3 linked regions of the Homo sapiens genome follow. The protein of the gene in region 1 purifies or fractionates together with the protein of each later gene. This does not show direct contact. Each region holds a gene or a part of one and is shown in the gene's direction. Other genes may lie near its edges.

What was found.
Region 2: the proteins of IFT122 (region 1) and DNAJC7 purify together in Homo sapiens (co-immunoprecipitation; 4 studies listed by BioGRID and IntAct, with this or other methods). This does not show direct contact.
Region 3: the proteins of IFT122 (region 1) and DNAJA2 purify together in Homo sapiens (co-immunoprecipitation; 2 studies listed by BioGRID and IntAct, with this or other methods). This does not show direct contact.

The regions. Positions count from the first base shown.
Region 1 is NC_000003.12:129,478,224-129,485,331, forward strand, and holds part of IFT122 (intraflagellar transport protein 122 homolog), read left to right. Parts: intron 1-1,542; exon of another isoform or gene 1,543-1,561; coding exon 1,562-1,699; intron 1,700-3,306; coding exon 3,307-3,471; intron 3,472-5,261; coding exon 5,262-5,459; intron 5,460-7,108. UniProt on the Homo sapiens protein: As a component of the IFT complex A (IFT-A), a complex required for retrograde ciliary transport and entry into cilia of G protein-coupled receptors (GPCRs), it is required in ciliogenesis and ciliary protein trafficking.
Region 2 is NC_000017.11:41,979,433-41,986,540, reverse strand, and holds part of DNAJC7 (dnaJ homolog subfamily C member 7), read left to right. Parts: intron 1-633; exon of another isoform or gene 634-2,904; coding exon 2,905-2,978; intron 2,979-4,139; coding exon 4,140-4,286; intron 4,287-4,533; coding exon 4,534-4,686; intron 4,687-7,108. UniProt on the Homo sapiens protein: Acts as a co-chaperone regulating the molecular chaperones HSP70 and HSP90 in folding of steroid receptors, such as the glucocorticoid receptor and the progesterone receptor.
Region 3 is NC_000016.10:46,970,611-46,977,751, reverse strand, and holds the start of DNAJA2 (dnaJ homolog subfamily A member 2), read left to right. Parts: upstream 1-4,077; 5' UTR 4,078-4,179; coding exon 4,180-4,257; intron 4,258-5,796; coding exon 5,797-5,856; intron 5,857-6,179; coding exon 6,180-6,403; intron 6,404-7,141. UniProt on the Homo sapiens protein: Co-chaperone of Hsc70. Stimulates ATP hydrolysis and the folding of unfolded proteins mediated by HSPA1A/B (in vitro).

The DNA.
Region 1 (7,108 bases):
CAGCAGCATGTTGAAGGAGTTGGGCTGAATTCCATTTGTGCTCCCCCCCCAGTGATAGGGTGCCCACCTCATGGTTTTAAAACTGGTCACTAGAAAACAAGTCTGTTCCATCAAACTAAGTGGTGCTTATTGGCTTTCATTTTCCTGGCATCTGGATGAACCAGACTCTATCAGCAAGTCATGAGCCATAAACTGGAGAATGTTTTTTTGTTTTATTTTATTATTTTTTAAAAAATATTTTTCTTGAGACAGACAGGGTCTTGCTCTGTTGCCCAGGCTGGAATGCAGTGGCACAATTATGGCTCACTGCAGCTTTGACCTCCCAAGCTCAAGCGGTCTTCCTCCTGAGTAGCTGGCACCACAGGCACATGCCACCACACCCAACTAATTTTTTATTTTTAGTAGAGACGCGAGGCTGTACTTTGGGAGGCTAAGGCGGGAGGAATGCTTGAACCCAGGAGTTTGAGACCTGTCCAGCTTCCTAAAGTACTGGGATTATAGGTGTGAGCCACTGTGTCTAGCCAAGAATACCTTGTTCTATTGCAGAACATCTTGTCATACTGGGATTAGATATACTTTAATGACTTAAAACATAAATTGGTGTACAGAATGAAGATAGTTTTTATTGATAAGCATATACACATAAAATTTGTATCAACTCAGTAATTGTCAAGGAAGTTTTAATTCCTGAAAGATTTTTTTTCATAGAAAAATATTTCTCAAGATTCTTAGAGAGTGTCTAAGTCAATGCCAAGAGAAGTTTGGAAAGACTTTGAGAGAAGGCTAGCCCAGCATCTTGGAAGTAGAGGTGGATTTAGTTTTACATAGTTCTGTTGGAGGTGATAAAAGAGAAGAATTCCTTAGGAATCACTGTAGTGTAAAATACTATTAAAATCTCTCAAAAGCCTAGAACTGGGCTGGGTGCAGTGGCTCATGCCTGTAAATCCCAGCACTTTGGGAGGCCAAGGCAGGATGATTGCTTGAGGCTAGTAGTTCGAAAGCAGTCTAGAAAACAGAGACCCCATCTCCACCAAAAAAAAAAAAAAAAAAAAAAAATTATTTAATTAGCTGGGTGTGGTGGCGCTTGCCTGTAGTCCCAGCTACTTGGGAGGCTGAGGCAGGAGAATTGCTTTAGCCAGAAATTGGAGGCAGCAGTGAGCTATGATAGCGCCACTACACTCCAGCCTGGGTGACAGAGTGAGACTCTGTCTCAAAAACAAATAATAAATAAATAATCAAAGTTAGAACTCCAAGCGGTTTAGGGTTGCTACAAATTACAGGATAGATGTGGCAAGTATGTGTACTTTTGAGTGCTGCCTCTGGCCTAGGCTGCCTGGGTGGGGGTTTGCATTGAAGATCTGAGGCTGAATTGGGCTCCGTGGGGAAGCCTTGCATGGAGTCTTGGATTAACGATGCCAATCGTGGGGTCTACATTGGGTTAGATAGATGGATACTGAATGTGTAGGTATTTTCTCCCCTTAGGGACAGAAAGATCTCCTTGGGGAGGTCTGGGGGCACTTATTCTGTTGAATTTCCATGCAGAGCTGGGTTTGCTTCCTAGGAGAAACGGCTGCAGTGCCTGTCCTTCAGCGGAGTGAAGGAGCGGGAGTGGCAGATGGAGTCTCTCATTCGTTACATCAAGGTGATCGGTGGCCCTCCTGGAAGAGAAGGCCTCTTAGTGGGGCTGAAGAATGGACAGGTGAGTGCTCCCTCACGTCTCCTGTCAGGCTGATAATCTGCATGCACACGTGGGTGACCCGTCTAGCAATGACTCTGAGCTGGGTTCTCAGGGCAGGAAAAGGGCTTCTCTCCTCCATGGGTGAATTGTGGGGCAGCCTGAGTTCAGTTTTTTGAGGACAGCCTCAGGCCAAAGGTGCTGTGGCCCTCACACTCCTAGCAGGCCCACGTTTTGGCAGAGTTGAGCTATAACCTTTGGCTACATGTAGAGTGTATTAGTGGCTTAAGGTCTCCAGAAGGTGGGAGATTTGTTAGAGATGTTGCTTCTGTGGATTTCTAGAGGGAGGCAGAGATCGTTACCTAGGTCAGCTCCTGATTAGGGCAGCGAGTGGATTAAGGCAGTGCGTTCCAGCATGTGTCCTAAAGAATGCTGGGTCCTCAAGATACTGATAGATGTCATAAGCAAAATGGGCCCTTTGGCCAGTTAGATGTGGGATATCCAGGTTACACAAAATTCTGTGTGTGTGTATACATGTGTACACGTGTGTTCTTTGCTCAGCATAAGAAAAGTTCTAAGTAGGCTGCTACATGGAACTTTGAAAGTGACAATGTAGCTGCATTAGCCTGACAGCCAAGCTGTGCAGCAGATGGCTTATGGCTGAGGCTTGTCAGGTCTTTGCTGGGGATGGAAGTCACAGGGCATGAGAGCAGTGGGTGAAGTCAAGCAGCAATGCCAAGGGGAGGAAGGGCCGCTTATTTCTCAGGCAGCTCTCACTTCCAATGGGAGCATGGACTATGGGGTCAGGTGGGCCGGAGGTCGTGTTCTTACTTAGCTACTCACTGGCTTTGTCATCCTGGGCAGGTCACTTTACCTCTGTGAGGCTGGTTTTACATGAGGATAATACCACATATTTCATAGGGCTGTCAAAAACAGATATCATCAGGGTTGGGAGTTAAAGCCAATGTTAAAAACAAAACAAAACAAAAAAAACACCAGGGGTATTAAAACAGGCATGGTGGAGGGTACCTGTTTTCCCAGCTACTCAGGAGGCTGAGATAGGAGGATCACTTTGAGCCCAGGAGTTTGAGGCTGCAGTGTGATATGATTATACCTGTGAATAGCCACTGCGATCAGCCTGGGCAACATAGCAAGACCTTATCTCTAAAAAAAATTTTTTTTAAACCAGGGATATCAGTAAATGATAGCTATCATGATCACTATCATCATTATTATAATTTTCTACCACATGTCTTGTCAGTGTTCATAGTAGCTTTTTCCTGTGTTAGTTCGTGACTCAGATCTCTGCTAGGTGGCATCTCCTAAAGCTGCAGTTTGGGTAATGTCATCAACAAATCCCCAGTCCGAACAGACACTGAAGTGAGCTCGGCCTGTCTCAGGGCTGTCATTACTTCTGCAGCCTCTGATGAACCTCGCTTCTGGCCTCCTAAGGATAAGCCATTGCCCCCCACCCCCCTCTTTCTTTTGATGAGTCCTTTTCCCTGCACAGAGCTTCTGGTGAAGGTGGTGGGAGTTGTTCTTGCAGAGCACATGGGATTCCAACGGCCTGGCAGTGGGCCAGGATCTTGTTGCCATGGTGACTGACACTGTTTTCGCTGAAATTTTGCCAGATCCTGAAGATCTTCGTGGACAATCTCTTTGCTATCGTCCTGCTGAAGCAGGCCACAGCTGTGCGCTGCTTGGACATGAGTGCCTCCCGTAAGAAGCTGGCCGTGGTAGATGAAAATGACACTTGCCTGGTGTATGACATCGACACCAAGGAGCTGCTTTTTCAGGTGAAGTCCCTGAGGGGGCCCAGGGACATCATCCTTTGATTAGAGACTCTCCTCTAGCTTCCCAGTCCCTGCAGGAGGCTCTCCTGCTCTGGCCCAGGCAGGTCTCTGGGAGGGGCAGGGGCCAAGCACATGCACAGAGTCCCAGAGGCCCTGGGCCACAACCTGCTCCTCCCACACAGGCACAAGCCGCAGGGCCTGGACCGGCCTCTTTAACTTTGGTTTCCTTGCCAATGGAAACCGAAGGCTCTGAGCCAGCAGAGCCTTTCTTAAGCGTTTACCATGAACAAGAAATGGGGCAATGACTCTGAGAGGGGTGTGACGTTGGCACTCAGTGAATGGGGCGATGGATGCACTTCCTTTGCAGAAGTCTGTGTCTCACCTGCTGCAGGCCTGCCTGTGTCTATGCGCACCTACAGCGTGGGAAGGAAACAGGATGTTTTGTCATCTGAAAGGGGGAAGGGGATGGGCAAGCCTGGCCTTCTACTTAATTCACAAGAATGCTAGAAGAGCCAGCAGAATGCGAAGTGCTTGGATCTTTGGGGTTGTAGGCGTTGTTCAGTGGAGTCATCCAGCCCTGTGGCCTGAGGAAGTGTGTCACCAGAGAAGACAGCCCGGCAGCTCTGTGCCCCGGGCCTGGTTGGCTTTCTGCTGGGCTCGCGCCATTCTTTCTCTCTTTAGGTCTTTGTAGGTGGTCAGGACTGGTTTTCCAGAGTGAAGTTCCCCCCAAAGCTGGAGCCCCTCCTGACTGGTTTCCTCGGCCACTGCAGGGTTTCCTGATGTTATGGGCAGATTCAGTCCCCTTACCAGGCTCCTCCTTGTTCTCAGCAGCAGAATCGATGGGGGAGGGGTCTGGAGTGGGGAGCAGCCTCAGTCAATTAGAAGGAGTTACCTGGCCACCTCTAGCCCAGAGGTAACTCCATGTCAGTCTCAACTCACTCATGTCCTTGAGAGAGTAGAATGGTTTCGGGGAAAGAGAGGGCATAGCCTTCAAGCTGACCTGGGCTTGGGTCCTGCCTGCATCCCTTACTGTGTGATCTTAAGTTAGTGAGCCTCTCTGAGCCTTAATTACTTTTCTCTAAAATGAAATTAGTAATTGCCCCTTACAGAATTGCTACAGGAATACACTAGATACTACAGTGCCTAGCTCAGTGTTGAGCACAAAATGGGGCCTGAAATGTTACTTCCCTTCTCCCCAGCCTCACCTCCCACCTATAGGGGGCATAGCTGGCCCCAAATGTGAATCTTGTGTCTGAGCCTAGAATCATACAAGTGTGGAAGGGCGTCTGTGCTGCCCCATCCCCACTGCTGGCTCTATGGCAGGCTAGGGGAGGTGATTCTCAGCCCTGCCAGGAGACATCAGCATTCCCAGCTGTAACATTGCCTGCTGGCTTTTCCTCTTCTCCACTGCCCCTCCCTCTACACATAAAACAGCTATATTGATTTTTTCTCATTATAAAAAACAATCCATGCTGATTATAAAAGATTTAGTCATTATAAAAGATCCTAGGCAGAAAGGTATGAGCATATTTCAGGAGAATAATTTTTTTTCAAAAGTAATACTTGCTTACTCAAAAATTCCAACAACACGCAGGTGCATGGAGGGGCTTGCCTCTGTTCATTTCTCTTGCCTCTGTTCATTTCTTTGTGGTCCCCTTTCATCCTTTTCCCTCCATCCCACTGTAAGCAATTTAGTGGGATTCAGTCTTTAAGAGGGTATTGGGCTGAAATGTGTGAGCGCTGACCAAGCCCAGGGTGGTTCTCACAGGATCCCCACTGTCCCTGTTCCCCAGGAACCAAACGCCAACAGTGTAGCTTGGAACACCCAGTGTGAGGACATGCTCTGCTTCTCGGGAGGAGGCTACCTCAACATCAAAGCCAGCACCTTCCCTGTGCACCGGCAGAAGCTGCAGGGCTTTGTGGTCGGCTACAATGGCTCCAAGATCTTCTGCCTCCATGTCTTCTCCATTTCTGCCGTGGAGGTGCCGCAGGTAACTGGGGGTGCCTGTCCACTCTTAGCACTGGCAAGGCTGACAAGACCAGGGAAGCTGGGCCCTTTGCTGGTGCTTTGGGGAGAGAGTAGCAAGGAGAGAAGAATGGCAGCTGTGAGGTCGTGGGAGGCAGTCTGGGCCTGGAACCTGCCGCCCTGTCTCCACTCCTTGCAACCTGTGTGACTGGGGGCAAACAGCTCAACCTCCCTGAGTATCAGTTTCTTCCTTGTCCCCTTTCTGTAGGGATGGGAGGGGTATGCAGTGTTGTCAGCAGCGTGTGTTTTGCAGAGAGCCCAGCGTGGGGCCGAATGGAGTGAGCAGCAAAGCCGGGAGTCCGGCAGGGTGTGTGTGTGAGTACGTGTGTGATGGTGGTGATGTGTGTGTGAGAGAGAGGGGAGAGAGAGAATGAGTGGGTGGGGGGTGTGGGCTGAGGTCTGTGAGCCAATAAGGGAGCATGGGACTCTGCACAAGCTCTCTGAACCAGGAGGTGGCCAGAACAGAAATGGGGCACTGAAGGGTGGAGCCACAGAATGGGGGAGGGCAGAACCACAGACAGGCGCCTGAGATTGACCTCCCGAATGCAGGATGGTCTCCCCTCCACCTTCTGCACCCCAGGCAGATGGTGCTCACTGTAGAATTGCCATAAAACAGAGACGTGCATAGCGAGAAACTGTAGCCTTCAGCATCCCATCCTCAGGACAGAATCACTCTTAAACATGTTGAAATACATCTGCTTAGCGCTTTTCTACGTGTATATATAATATATGCATAATATACAATTAGGAGCATGTGGTTTTATAAGAACATTTTTAAACAAAAGTGGAATCACACTGCAAATACTTTTCATGACTTTTATGTGTATACGTATTGCTACCTATAGATGGAACCTCAGATTTACTGTATTCCCTGAGCCTGGCCTGTAAACAAGACTTCTCATCCCTTCCTTTATGGCTATCTTCTCATTTCACCTCACATTCGGTTATGGCAGCCCCATCACTGTCTATGAAGTGCTGGCTGTACACTAGTCATCTGGCCTTTTCACTCAACAATCTCCTAAAGCATCGTTCTGTGTCAGTAAATGGTAAATGTTCTTATTCTGCATGGCAAAATTTAGGGTAATTGTAGACTCACATAAATTGTAGGAAATAATACAGAGATCCCTTAAACCCTTTGCCTAGTTTCCCCCAACGGTAACAGTGTGCATAGCTCTAGAGTGATCTTCCCACCCATGTTGGCATGTGTAATCTCCCACCACAGTCATGGCACTGAACACTGCCACCACCACAAGGTCCCTGGTGTTGTGCTTTTTACAGCCAGCACCCCTCCCTCCTGCCTGGTCCCCACCTGCCTTGTATTTACAGCTGCATTTTATTGTGTCTTGTGGATGTTCCACAGCTTTCTTTACCAGTCCTACTGGACATGTTTGCTGCTTATAGCTTTTTTGTATTATTGTAAATAGCAGGCATCTTTCTAGCTAGGTCCTTGCACCTGTCCCAACTTGGCGCCTTGGCATAAATTCCTAGAAATGAAATTGCTGGGTCAAAGCACGTGTACCTTTGAAAGACTTTTAGGGAAATTTCCAGGTTTCCCTTCCGCTAGGCTCTGTCAGTCTGTTTTCCCCATACAACTCAGCTTCAGGCTAGAGCCCA
Region 2 (7,108 bases), on another chromosome or scaffold:
AAAAAAAAAAGGCGGGGGGAGAATCACCTACATGTCCAGTGGGAAGGGGGTGGCTAGATACTTGATACTGTATGAACTTAATGGAATGCTCTGTATATGGAATGCCAGGGGATGGGAAGAGAAGAGAAAAATCGCTTTGTTTTATTTTTTGGGATGGAGTCTCGCTATGTCGCTCGGGATGGAGTCTCGCTATGTCGCTCAGGCTGGAGTGCAGTAGCACCGTACTGGCTCACTGCAACCTCCACCTCCTGAGTTCAAGCGAATTTCCTGCTTCAGCCTCCGAAGTAGCTGAGATTACCGGCGCATGTCACCACACCCAGCAAATTTTTGTATTTTTATTGGAGATGGGGTTTCATCATGTTGGCCAGGCTGTTCTCAAACTCCTGATGACAAGTGATCTGCCTGTCTTGGCCTCCCAAAGTTCTGGAATTACCAGCAGGTGTGAGCCACCGCGCCCGGCCTTTTTTTTTTTTTTTTTTTTTTTTTTTTTTTTAAGCAAGCCCCCAACACCATAGAAAATTCTTGATTTGCTCGGAGGATAATTGGATGAAGGATTATTTTCTTCTTTGTTTATGTGCAAGAAATGAAAATAAGGAATTGCTTTGATCAGACAACTTCTTATCTTTGTGGTAGAAACAGAACTGCCCTTCTTGGAGTGGCTCTGCCTCTGAGATCACTACAGGGGAGACAGCATGCCCTGTTCAGCTGGCTGAATATTTGGCAACAATCTCCTGAAGCAGCTGGAATTGACAAGAAGTACTGGAGATTAGCTCGGGCCAAACCCTTACATCTGGCCTGACTACTGCTGCAGTCTGCCTCAACTTACCCCTAAAGCTGGGGAGATGCCACCCACCCACATCTTTGCTACACATGCCATCATGAGCTAGAGTTCACCCTTTCTCCTTAAAGCCCTATTTACTTTTCTACTTCAACTTTAAAACAAAATTAAAATGTGAGGATATCCCTGAATTTTAAAAAGCATGAAGTAAAAATGCAAATTAGTATAGTTTGTTTAATACATTACATATAGACCTAAAGAAAGTTCATCAGGGTTAATCATTTGTCACATCATTCTATACCCAGGGCTATCAGCTATCAATTTTCCTTTTTTTTTTTTTTTTAATTCAGGATCCAGCTCTGTCACCCAGGCTGGAGTGCAGTATCAAAGTATCATTTCTCTTACTTCAAATTATTACATTTTATTCTGTACATTGATTCTGAACTCCTAATATAATATTTATGTCCTGTATTTGCAGGCCATTGGTTTTTTTAAAGTCATAAATCAAAATGATGCCAGAAAATCAAAGATGCCCAAGATGTTGGGCTTCTCTTTTGCCAGCCACATTGGTAGCACTCTCCTGCCCTGGCCTCCAAGCTGGTGGGGATCTGTGATGTTTGTGAAAATGGGCTTATGCCAGGCGCAGTGGCTCACGCCTATAATCCCAGCACTTTGGGAGGCCGAGGCGGGCAGATCGGTTCAGGTCAGGAGATCGAGACCAGCCTGGCCAACATGGTGAAACCCCATCTCTACTAAAAATACAAAAAATTAGCCAGGTGTGGTGGCACATGCCTGTAATCCCAGCTACTCAGGAGGCTGAGGCAGGAGAATCACTTGAAACCTGGGAGGCGGAGGTTGCAGTGAGCAGAGATCGTGCCATTACACTCCAGCCTGGGCTACAGAGTGAGACTCTGTGTCAAAAAAAAAAAAGAAAGAAAATGGGCTTGTGTGGTAGCAGGTAAGAAATTGAATCTCTGTTGTACAGCAGCTAGCTGTACTGCATGATCACTTCCCATTCCCCAGCTGACAGTGGCTGTCTCTGGAACTCCTACCACAGTCTTCAATTGGTAGGCCAGCCCTGGTGCCAGTGATTTTATCTGGGCATGGAAAATGCCACTTGCTTCTGTGGAAGAGACACTTAAAAGATCTGGCAGTCGGCCGGGTGCGGTGGCTCACGCCTATAATCCCAACACTCTGGGAGGTCAAGGCAGGCGGATCACGAGGTCAGGAGATGGAGACCATCCTGGCTAACACGGTGAAACCCTGTCTCTACTAAAAAAAAAAATAAAAAATTAGCTGGGCGAGGTGGCGGGCGCCTGTAGTCCCAGCTACTCTGGAGGCTGAGGCAGGAGAATGGCGTGAACCCAGGAGGCGGAGCTTGCAGTGATCCGAGATCACACCACTGCACTGCAGTCTGGGCAACAGAGCGAGACTCCATCTCAAAAAAAAAAAAAAAAAAAAAAGATCTCGCAATCATCCTGTCAAGCTTGATTCCTCCGATCTTGGGCCAAGGGCCCCTCCTTTCTTTTGTGCTACTGAAATAGAAGCAAACCTGTGTTTAGAGTTCCCTTTTCTGTCTCATTTACCTGCATCTCTCATTGATTGGTCTTAGTGGAGGGATTTGCCAGCAGCTGCCACGTTGAACTTGATCCTTTTAGTGGCTCACTAATCCCACCTCTATTCTGGATTGTAGCTAGTCCTGCATGTTTATGGCACTATAGGTTTCAAAGCTCTTTCATACCCATTTATTCACTTGATAATTTTTCTCTTGTGTGTTTCAACCCAAAGTAATCAAGTAGATCCCTTCACATTGTCTTTTCTAAGGCAGTCCAGTACCTCTTAGGTGGCTGTGTGTCAGAAGGAACTTTTTCCTCTTGATTACTTTCTGCTCAAAGCTGAACATCACTTTGCTGGTTGGATGCAAGTGCCATGCGACCTCTCTTTTTATTTCCTTGAGGACTTGTTAGCTAATTTTCTCTCACTGCTAGATTAAGGGCTCCTGTTTCTGAAGCATCTTACCAGAAGTGTGTGTCTCTTGCTTGAGCCATGCCTCTTGCCCTAGAGTGATCCTGAGAACCACTGCTATTTATGTCTTAGTGCTGTATTGCCTTGTATTTCCTTCTCAGTTACATGGACACAGAACAGTATGAAGAAGCAGTACGAGACTATGAAAAAGTATACCAGACAGAGAAAACAAAAGGTAAGTTTAAAAGCATTTGTTTTTTAGGGAACTGTGTGGACTTCGTAGGCCATAAATCTGTACACAAGGTAGTTTGATTCAGGGATCAGGGATCTACCTAGAACTTATTTGATCACCAGCCAGAAAGAAGTGAACAAAGGCTGGGCGTGGTGGCTCACGCCTGTAATCCCCAGCACTTTGGGAGGCTGAGGCAGGCAGATCACCTGAGATCAGGAGTTGGAGACCAGACTGGCCAACATGGTGAAACCCCATCTCTACTGAAAATACAAAAAATTGTGGGTATGGTGGTATACGCCTGTAATCCCAGCCACTCAGGAGGCTGGGGCACGAGAATTCCTTGAACCCAGGAGGCGGAGGTTGCAGTGAGCTAAGATTGCGCGACTATACTCCAGCCTGGGTGACGGAGCGAGACTTCATCTCAAAAACAAAAACAAAAAAAAGAAAAAAAAAGTGAACAGATATCTTGGGTTGGGGCATGAGGCACCTATTTTCTGGTTCCAGATCCTCCCTGTCGTTTTCATTTCATTTTTTGTGTGGTGAGGCTAAAGTGAGGAACCTAAGTCTGGGTAGATTTTCTTTTTTCTTTTTCTTTTTTTTTTTTTTAAGATGGAGTCCTGCTCTGTCACCCAGGCTGGAGTGCAATGGCATGATCATAGCTCACTACAACCTTTGCCTCCCAGGTTCAAACAATTATCCTGCCTCAGCCTCCCGAATAACTGGGATTACAGGCACATGGTACCACGCCTGGCTAATTTTTTGTATTTTTAGTAGGGATGGGGTTTCACCATGTTGGACAGGCTAGTCCCGAACTCCTGACCTCGGGTGATCCATTCTGTCAAGCTTGATTCCTCCCATCTTGGGCCAAGGGCCCCTCCTTTCTTTCGTGCTACCGAAATAGAAGCAAACCTGTGTTTAGAGTTCCCTTTTCTGTCTCATTTACCTGCATCTCTCATTGATGCAGGCCTCCCAAAGTGCTGCGATTACAGGCATGAGTCACCGTGCCTGGCCGAGTAGATTTTTTTTCTAATCTCCAGAAGAAAGCACCGTAAAAGTCCCTGGCATGGTTAACAAGGCCTCTAACTCCCAGGCAGCTGGGCTGAGACCTGGTGAGGAAAAAACCAGAGTCAGATTTGTCCACTGATGCCAGATGTCTTCCTGTAGAACACAAACAGCTCCTAAAAAATGCGCAGCTGGAACTGAAGAAGAGTAAGAGGAAAGATTACTACAAGATTCTAGGAGTGGACAAGAATGCCTCTGAGGACGAGATCAAGAAAGCTTATCGGAAACGGGCCTTGATGCACCATCCAGGTAGAGTAGGTGCGGGGAGTGGGCTCAGTGGGAAGAACCCGCAGGGCAGGCCAACTGCCACACTCAGTCCAGAGGGGACCCCTTGGAGAGGTCCTTCAGCTGAGAATAAGGTGTTGCAGACTTGTGGACCCTCCAAATTTTGGGAAGTGCCAAATTCCAAAATTAGACAGAAAGTAGTTTTTCTCTTAAACTTTGTTTTCTTGAAACTTTGATTTCCACTGAGTTGTTCTTTTACTCCCCACTTTAGATCGGCATAGTGGAGCCAGTGCTGAGGTTCAGAAGGAGGAGGAGAAGAAGTTCAAGGAAGTTGGAGAGGCCTTTACTATCCTCTCTGATCCCAAGAAAAAGACTCGCTATGACAGTGGACAGGACCTAGATGAGGAGGGCATGAATATGGGTGGTGAGTTGGCTGGGGCAGCCTGGGATGAATTTGACAGCTGTAGAATGTTAGAATTTTTTCCAAAGATGCTCCAGAGGGAGAGTCTATTTGGGCCAAATCTGATCCCTGGTCCAAACAGTAATAGACATGGAGTCAAACAAATGCAGTCAAATGTGGCAGGTTCACAGTGTGCAGTGAGCTCTGAGGAGGCGAGCACTAGCAAGGGAAGGCTTGGAAGTGCAGAAAAGCATGGCCCCATGGGTCATGCCTGTAATCCCAGCACTTTGGGAGGCCAAGGCAAGCAGATCACTTGAGGTCAGGAGTTTGAGACCAGCCTGGCCAACATGGTGAAACCCTGTCTCTACTAAAAATACAAAAATTAGGCTGGGCGCGGTGGCTCATGCCTGTAATCTCACCACTTTGTGAGGTCAAAGCAGGTTGATCACCAGGTCAGGAGTTTGAGACCAGCCTGGCCAACATGGTGAAACCTCGTCTCTACTAAAATACAGAAATTAGCCAGGTGTGGTGGTGGGCGCCTGTAATCCCAGCTACTCGGGAGGCCGAGGCATGAGAATCGCTTGCACCCAGGAGGCGGAGGTTGCAGTGAGCCGAGATTGTCCCACTGTACTCCATCCTGGGCGACAGAGCAAGACTTTGTCTCAATTAAAAAAAATAATAAGAAGAAAGAAAAAAGAAAAATTAGCCAGGTGTGGTGGTGCACACCTGTAATCCCAGCTACTTGAACCCGGGAGGTGGAGGTTGCAGTGAGCCAAGATGGCGCTACTGCACTCCAGCCTGGGCAACAGAGTGAGACTCCATCCCTCCCCACTAAAAAAGCAAAGCATGGCCTCTTTGGGGATCTGCAGGGGGCTTGGTCTAGGGAAGATAAAGGGATAGGGTGCTAGAGGCAGGTGGTGGTGGAAGGCCGGCAAGTAGCTGGATCAGAGCTCACAGGCCATAAGGGCTGTATGTGGTAAGGAATATGAGCATTTTCCTATTATCTGGAAGTTCTTTTTTACCCACTGCAAAGTGTATGCTGACATTTATGTATGTCATACATTCCTATAAACACTCACAGATTTTAATTTCCCAAAAAGATTTAGCATGATATAAAGCACACCTATTGTCAATATTGTTGCTCACTGTGGGCTGTCAGAGATAAGAGGCCCTGACCTGTGAGCTGGGCGCGGTGGCTTACGCCTGTAATCCCAGCACTTTGGGAAGCCAAGGCGGGCAGATCACCTGAGCTCAGGAGTTCAAGACCACCCTGGGCAACATACAAAATACCAAAAAAATTGTACTCTCTACTAAAATACAAAAAAATTAGCTGAGCATGGTGGTGCATGCCTGTGGTCCAAGCTACTCAGGAGACTGAGGCACCAAAAACTCTTGAGCCCAGGAGGCAGAGGTTGCAGTGAGCTGAGATTGCGCCACTGTACTCCAGCTTGGGTTACAGAGTGCGACTCCATCTCAAAAATTAATTAATTAATTCAGTCAGTCTTCACTCTAAGTTGTCTGCCAAAAAATTTGCTGGGCATGGTGGCTCACGCCTGTAATCCCATCACTTTGGGAGAACAAGGTGGGCGGACCACAAGGTCAAGAGATTGAGACCATCCTGCCCAACATGGTGAAACCCCGTCTCTATGAAAAATACAAAAATTAGCTAGCCATGGTGGCGCACGCCTGTAGTCCCAGCTACTTGGGAGGCTGAGGCAGGAGAATCGCTTGAACTCGGGAGGCGGAGGTTGCAATGAGCTGAGATCGCACCACTGCACTCCAGCCTGGCGACAGAGCAAGACTTGTCTCAAAAAAAAAAAAAAAAAGAGGACCTGACCTGTGAATGGTGAACAGACCTACCATCTCTTCCACTAAGAAAATCTATTGGGATTTTGTTTTTTGTTTTGTTTTGTTTTTTGAGACGGAGTCTTGCTGTGTCACCCAGGCTGGAGTGCAGTGGCACCATCTCGACTCACTGCAACCTCCGCCTCCAGGGTTCAAGTGATTCTTCTGCCTCAGCCTCCCGAGTAGCTGGGACTACAGGTGTGCGCCACCACGCCCAGCTAATTTTTGTATTTTAAGTAGAGACGGGGTTTTACCATATTGGCCAGGCTGATCTGGAACTCCTGACTTCGTGATCCACCCACCTCGGCCTCCCAAAGGGCTGGAATTACAGGCGTGAGCCACCGCGCCCGGCCTTTTTTTTTTTTTTTTTTTTTTTAAGACTGAGCCCAGTCTGGGTGCAGTAGTGCCATCTTGGCTCACTGCAACCTCTGCCTCCAGGGTTCAAGCAATTCTCCTGCCTCAGCCTCCTGAGCAGCTGGGATTACAGGCATCCACCCCCATGCCTAGCTAATTTTTATATTTTTAGTAGAGACAGGGTTTCACCATGTTGGCCGGGCTGGTCTTGAACTCCTGACCGCAAGTGATCTACTGGCCTTGGCCT
Region 3 (7,141 bases), on another chromosome or scaffold:
CACGCCCGGCTAATTTTTTGTATTTCTAGTAGAGACGGGGTTTCACCGTGTTAGCCAGGATGGTCTCGATCTCCTGACCTCGTGATCCACCCACCTTGGCCTCCCAAAGTGCTGGGATTACGCGCATAAGCCACCACGCCTGGCCTTTATGTATATTATGTATATATTATATATATATTACAGTGGTAATGAGGTGTGTGTATATATATACACATATATGTGGAAAACATATATATTCATATTCATATCTCATATTATCACAATAGACATATCTTCTCCACTATTTTTCCCACACTAATTGTTAGATGGCTAAATTTATTGGGTCAATTTCTCTGCTTACTATACCACTGCAATTATATAAGCAAACTGAACCTTTGGAAAATGCTAATTAATAAGGCAGGGTTTGACACGACTGGGTTTGAAAGGCCAGCAGTGGGGCTAGAAATACCTACCACATACAACTGTGCTGCCCCATCACTGAATAATCTACTTTAAGCACTGAAAGAAATTCAGAGATTATTCAGTGATCCAAGTCCCACAATTTTTTCTTTCCAGAGTACCAACAATCATCAAATTATGTGGTCCTGACACCCTCATAACAAGAACCATCAGTACCTTCTTCTGTATCCCCCCAAAATATTTTAACCTGCATCACTTACTCTATACATTCAAACCTAGTTAAAGCAGAAAGCAAAACTATTTTCTGACTGCCTCAATGATATATCTGGAGTTGTCTAAGTAATGGATTACACAGTTCCCAATTACTTGTGAACAGTATCAATGGTCTTCAAAAATACTACAGTTCCTATACCCCCCGTCCCAGTCCATATCCACCTCCTCTCCATCCCAACCCTTCACAGTTACACAAGCATACTAAATCAAAGCAAAGGAATTGAACACCAATATAAGCCTGGCAGAAATCTGAAATCACTGCCGCCTCAAACTTTAGATCACTGCAGCGCTCAGGTGTACTGTGACTCAGCATTTTACAGTGCCTGAGACATGAAATGAGATAAAGGTCCTTTTCCCTTCACAGCATTGGCTAAACATGAAGCCAAAATAAATATGCTACCTCAAAACAGTTAGTGGCTGGAACATTACAGTGCTCACACTGACACAGGTTTATCTCAGTCTGTGATCCTTGGGAGGAGACCCTGTGTCAGTTTAAGCACACAAAGTTCTTCTGAAATAACTCGAGCTATAAAATTAGCAAATTATGCTGACTACAATTAATACCCAGAAATGGAGAAAATATTGCAAAGAAATGAAAATGAAATTCAAAAATAGTTACTGTGGTTACTGGTCTAGTCAGGTAAAAAACTAAAATAAAATAACAAGAACAAAAGAGGGAATTTACCCAGCTACTCTTCATTACAATATCAGAAGCTAAAATGGCATCAAGAGAGAATTTTTTCCTCTTGCAAAAAAAAAAACTGAGTAAAACTGAAACAAATAGGAAACTCCAGCCCTTTTAAACTGTTCATGGGCAGAAGGAAAATAAGATAAAACAATATGAAACAAATAAGATAAATTAATATGAAGGTTGCAACAAAGACAGATTTTCAGTTCATATTCTTACGTGGAGCAGGAACTAACAGAGAAATGAGACGAGAGAAAATGATAACTGACAAGCAAGGAGATTTGGGAAGATGAGGTCATGAAAAGGGACGGAGGGGCATTCCCCATAGGTAATGGAAGAAGTCAGGGAATCCCAGTAGAAAAGCCAGAAATTTAAATGAGCAAAGACAACGTAAGCATATGGGCCAAGAACAATAGTTTATACTTAATTTCTTTTAGCTTCTTAGTAATTTTTTAAATTTTAATTATTTATTATTATTTTGAGACAGGGTCTCACTCTGTCACCCAGGCTGGAGTGCAGTGGTGTGATCTTGGCTCACTGCAACCCCCACCTCCTGGGCTCAAGGGATTCTCCCACCTCAGCCTCCCGAGTAGCTGGGACTACAGGCGTGCGCAACCACCCCCAGCTAATTTTTGTGTTTTTAATAGAGACGGGGTCTTGCCATGTTGACCAGGCTGGTCTCGAACTCCTGACCTCAAGTGATCAGGACTTGAGGCAGGAGTGATCCCGCCTCAGCCTCCCAAAGTTCTGGGATTACAGGCCACTGCGCCCAGCCCTAAGTAATAGAAATGTATAACTCTTTTAAACCAATGATATAAAAAATAACAAGCCCCATCTTACACCTGAGGAAACCTCAGAAAAGTTAAGTAACTTGCTGAAGGTCACATTGTTCCTAAATGGCAGAGTCAGACTACCAACCTACACAGTCTAACCTCGCCATAACTTTACACCGTCTCTTACGAACATCTCAAAATGTGAAAAGTAGAGAATTGGATTTTACAGCCGTGCATGAGGATGACGTCAGCATTTACACGGCAATGGCGGTTGGCAGAGGCAGTGGCTCAGGCCTGCAATCCCAGCACTTTGGGAGGCCAAGGTGGGTGGATGATTTGAGATCAGGAGTTCGAGACCAGCCTGGTCAACATGGTGAAGCTCCACCTCTACTAAAAATACAAAAATTAGCCGGGCATGGTGGTGGGCGCCTGTAATCCCAGCTACTCGAGAGGCTGAGGTGGGAGAATCACTTGAAGCCGGGAGGTGGAGGTTGCAGCGAGCTGAGATGGCGCCACTGCACTCCAGCCTGAGCGACATAACGAGACGCTGTTTCAAGTAAAAAAAAAAAAAAAAAAAAAAAAACAAAAGAGTTCGAGATCCTACCACAAAAGGTACAAACGAAGGGTGGTGGGAACTCGAATGAGATAGCAGTGTTCACCAGTGCCCAGTAAAGGAAGACTTCACAGAGGGAGCAGGATTTCAGATGGGATTTGAGGAAAAGGGTTTAAGGACTATTAATGACTTATCACTGATTACTCTTAGGGTTTTCAAGCTAAATTTCAGAGTCCTTGTCATGGAATTCAGGCCCTCCACAACTAGGTCAAAGGGAACGCCAAGGAAGAAACATTATCCTGAGTGAGATGCTTATGCTGAAGTCTTTGCTATCAGTTCAGGTTCCAAGGGATCAGAAAACCTTACTTTTCTGTCTCCATAAACCGTAAATGGGTTGAAGGCAGGCACTTTTGTAACACTCCTCTCCCCGGACCAGGCCTCTGTACATCATAGCACTTGGTAGATGCACAGCATACTTTCTGAGCGAAACTAAAACGAATGTAAATCAAGTCACCTGGTGGCCAGACTTGCCTTACACCATCTAAACCTCTGGTGTTAGCTAATTTTAAAGCTATCAAGTAAGAGGCTTAAACACGTGGTCCAGATGCAACATGTGGACCTTGGTTTGGACCCGGATGCCACAAACCAATTGTAAAAGGACATGAGATCATCTGAAAAACCTAAATATGGACTGGGAATTAGATTAAGGAATTGTTAATTTCATTAGATGAGATTACATCGTTATGCCTTTAAAAGTTGTCTCTTAGATATTAAATATATACACTTAGGGTATTTATGAATGAAACGGTTTCCCTTAAAACACTAGAAATGTATGGTGGAGCCAATGAAACAGGTAAAAGGTAGCTAACTGCACTATGGGGAGTAATATACTGCTTCTGCTAAATGTTTCAGAATTCTCATAATATAAAACACAACATACACACACACGCGCCCCCCAGTTTTTTTCATCGTAAGCCCCGAGGGAGCCAGACCCAGAGGGTCCACCGACGTCCCGGATTCTAATAACGACATCTGCGCGCCAGGCGGGCCTCCTGCGGGAGCCGGGGCCCATTTTCTTTCGAAGCTAACGAAGCTGCTGCGCAGGCCTGTTAATTCCCTCAGCAGCCAGTGCGAGGTTAAACACGCGACCTCGCAACCATGGCTTTTGAGAGGAAGCTGAATTCCTGGGGTGCGCCGTGCACAGTTCTTCATTTCCTACGTTGGCCCTGCCCAGCCGCCTGGACCTGGAGGAAAACAGAGAACCTGGCCCACTCTTCAATACTTCGACCCCAGTGGCCGCGCCTCGGGCGCTCGGGGGCGGGCTCTGCACAGCGACGTCACGGCGCACCGTGCGCTGGGTCAAAGTTCAGCCCCGCCCCCGCTTCCCCCTCGCTGTCTCCCTCGGCCTGTGCCGCCGCCGACGCCGCTTGTGGGCCCGACTCCGCTCTGTCTGCTTCGCCACCTTCTCCCCGAGCACTGCCCGGCCGGCCGCCATGGCTAACGTGGCTGACACGAAGCTGTACGACATCCTGGGCGTCCCGCCCGGCGCCAGCGAGAACGAGCTGAAGAAGGTATCTGGGAGCGGGCCGGGCGGGTGTGAGGGGCGCGGGGCCTGCGCGGCCAGGGATGTCTTCTTCAGCCAGGCCGCGCTACTGGGCTGCCCGCGAGCCGGCGCCGGCCGTGACTGGCCCGGGCTGGGAGTCGGCGGCGGCGGCGGGACCGGCCTCGCCGCGAGCCGCGCACTCCGGCCTCGGCTGACCTTGGGGCCGCCGGCCCCGCCCGCCCGCAGATGCAGCAAATAAAACTCACTCCTGCGCAAACACGATGGGAGCCCTTCCTTCCTCCCTCCTTGAACGAGCGCCGGGGGCTGGTATCCCCCGGGAGGCAGCAGCTCGCCCGGTCCTTCGCGTCGAGGTCACCACCCCGGAAAAACAGGTTGGACCGAGGTGCTCAGCGCATCCCGGCCCCGAGAGAGAAGCTGTCCGCCCCGCGGCCGTCGGCCCCGGGTCTGGTGCTCCGCGGGGAGGAACGGCGGGGAGGTCGAGGCCGCCCCCACAGAGCGCCTCGGGCGGATGGGGTTGTTTCCTGGGTTCCGCGGCCGCCGGCTGCGGGAGCTCCTCCCTCTCTGCGTCCCTCGCCCATTGACCCGGAGGTAGCTGGGTCTGTGTTTGGATGCATTGTTCTTTGGGCAGGTAATGCTAATGTCCTGTACCTGCTTAGGAATAAGCCGTGGTCCCAGCCAAACGCCTGAGTGTACAGTAAACATAAATAGAAGGCCTTATTATTGCTATTTGCAATGCTGCGATATCTTTCATCTCAGGATTTCAAAGCACACGAGGCATTTAAGCCCCACAGCATCCTCACCAGGCTAAGAGCATCCAGATTTGTAAGCCGAGAAAAATGAGAATGCTCCTTAGGCAGTGAGAAGAGTACAGTGGACTTCCTGTTACCTTACCGGAAATGCTAGTCTGTATTATATAATTCACGAGCCTCCGTGAATGAAGATTTAAGTGCTTTAGGACCCAAACACCTCGTTGAGAGTGTGTGCAACTTCTCTACCACCGAAGTTGCCACCACGACCCCAGTTAACCACCACGTGCAAATAAAACACCAAAAGACGCTAACTAGGACCACCTTTACTTTTTCATGATGTTACAGTTAGAAGGAAGGCGTGAGCCATCGGGAGCAGGAATTGTGACTTTAGCTTGATTTATAGTAATGTTTTGCAGTCCGCAAAGCTTAACAGTCATTTATCTCGAATTTATTAGGGTCGTCTTGGTCTGGTTACTTGGCCATCAAAGACACTTGACAATAGGGAAAATATGGATAATGTTTGAACGTTTTGTTTTTCCCTGTGGCATTGCTTCATTGTTTTATCTGGTTTTCACGTCACTGTAACCTGTTTTCAAGTATAGCTGCTGTCTACTTGGTTATATTACATTAGTAAACAGTATCGCGAGAAAGTGCCGAAGAATCCCTACGAATAGAAAATATTTTTGAAAGGTTATAACTCTAGAACATTACTTCTCAGAAAAGTGGATATTAAGTTATTACAAAACTTTTAACTGGTGTTTAGTTATAACCTTTTTTGTTTTTATCCATTTTCAAAGGCATACAGAAAGTTAGCCAAGGAATATCATCCTGATAAGAATCCAAATGCAGGAGACAAAGTAAGTTATTTGCACCTTTTTTATTCCGGGGGTTTTAGCTTTAACTTAAATTGCCCTCCTTGAAAAAGAGGAATGTTGCAGGAAAAAAATCCAACTATGCCCACACAGCCACATTTTCATAATGTCAAGAGTATTTTAGTTTTAGAATAAGAGTACTACCATTCTGAGGAGCGGTGGGTGGTAAATAGAACCAGAATCAAGTCAAAGGTAACTTGTCCCTTTTTTTTTTTTTTTAGAATTAAATGGATTCTGGATTCCTGTAGCTTCTCCCCACTCTTCTACTTGAAAATGCAATTATTTTTATTTTTACCTTTTCTTTATAGTTTAAAGAAATAAGTTTTGCATATGAAGTACTATCAAATCCTGAGAAGCGTGAGTTATATGACAGATACGGAGAGCAAGGTCTTCGGGAAGGCAGCGGCGGAGGTGGTGGCATGGATGATATTTTCTCTCACATTTTTGGTGGGGGATTGTTCGGCTTCATGGGCAATCAGAGTAGAAGTCGAAATGGCAGAAGAAGAGGAGAGGACATGATGCATCCACTCAAGTGAATATCTTGTTTTGTTGTTTTAAAAAATTAAGTACTTTTTGTCAAGTGGGATAATGACTCAGTAGATGAAAAATCTCATAGAGTGTTCTGTCCTTCATTAGAAAAACTTCCATTTGCCTTGTCTTCTTTTGGTGACTAAATTGAATTTGATTATCTGAATGTTTCTATTTCGCTGTAGCTCTTAAAAGGACAGTCGATATTTTTTAATGAGAGGAAGGTGGTTTTATATGGTTCTGAGGCTGCTTGTTATTATAGGACTTAAAATTTCAACTGTGAAGATCATTTTCTCTCTCTCTCTTTTTTTTTTTTTGAGACCGAGTTTCGCTCTTGTCCAGGATGGAGTGCAGTGGCACAATCTCAGCTCACTGCAACCTCTGCCTCCTGGGTTCAAGCGATTCTCCTGCCTCAGCCTCCCAAGTAGCTGGGATTACAGGCATATGCCAACACACCCGGCTAATTTTGTATTTTTAGAAGAGATGGGGTTTCTCCATGTTGGTCATGCTGGTCTCGAACTCCCAACCTCAGGTGATCTGCCTGCCTCGGCCTCCCAAAGTGCTGGGATTACAGGCGTGAGCCACTGTGCCCGACCTTTTTTTTTTTTTTTTTTTTTTTTTTGAAATGGAGTCCCTGTCGCCCGGGTTGGAGTGCAGTGGCACCATCTAGGCTCACTGCATCCCCCTCCTCTCAGGTTCAAGAAGTTCTCCTGCCTCAGCCCCCCAAGTAGCTGGGATTACA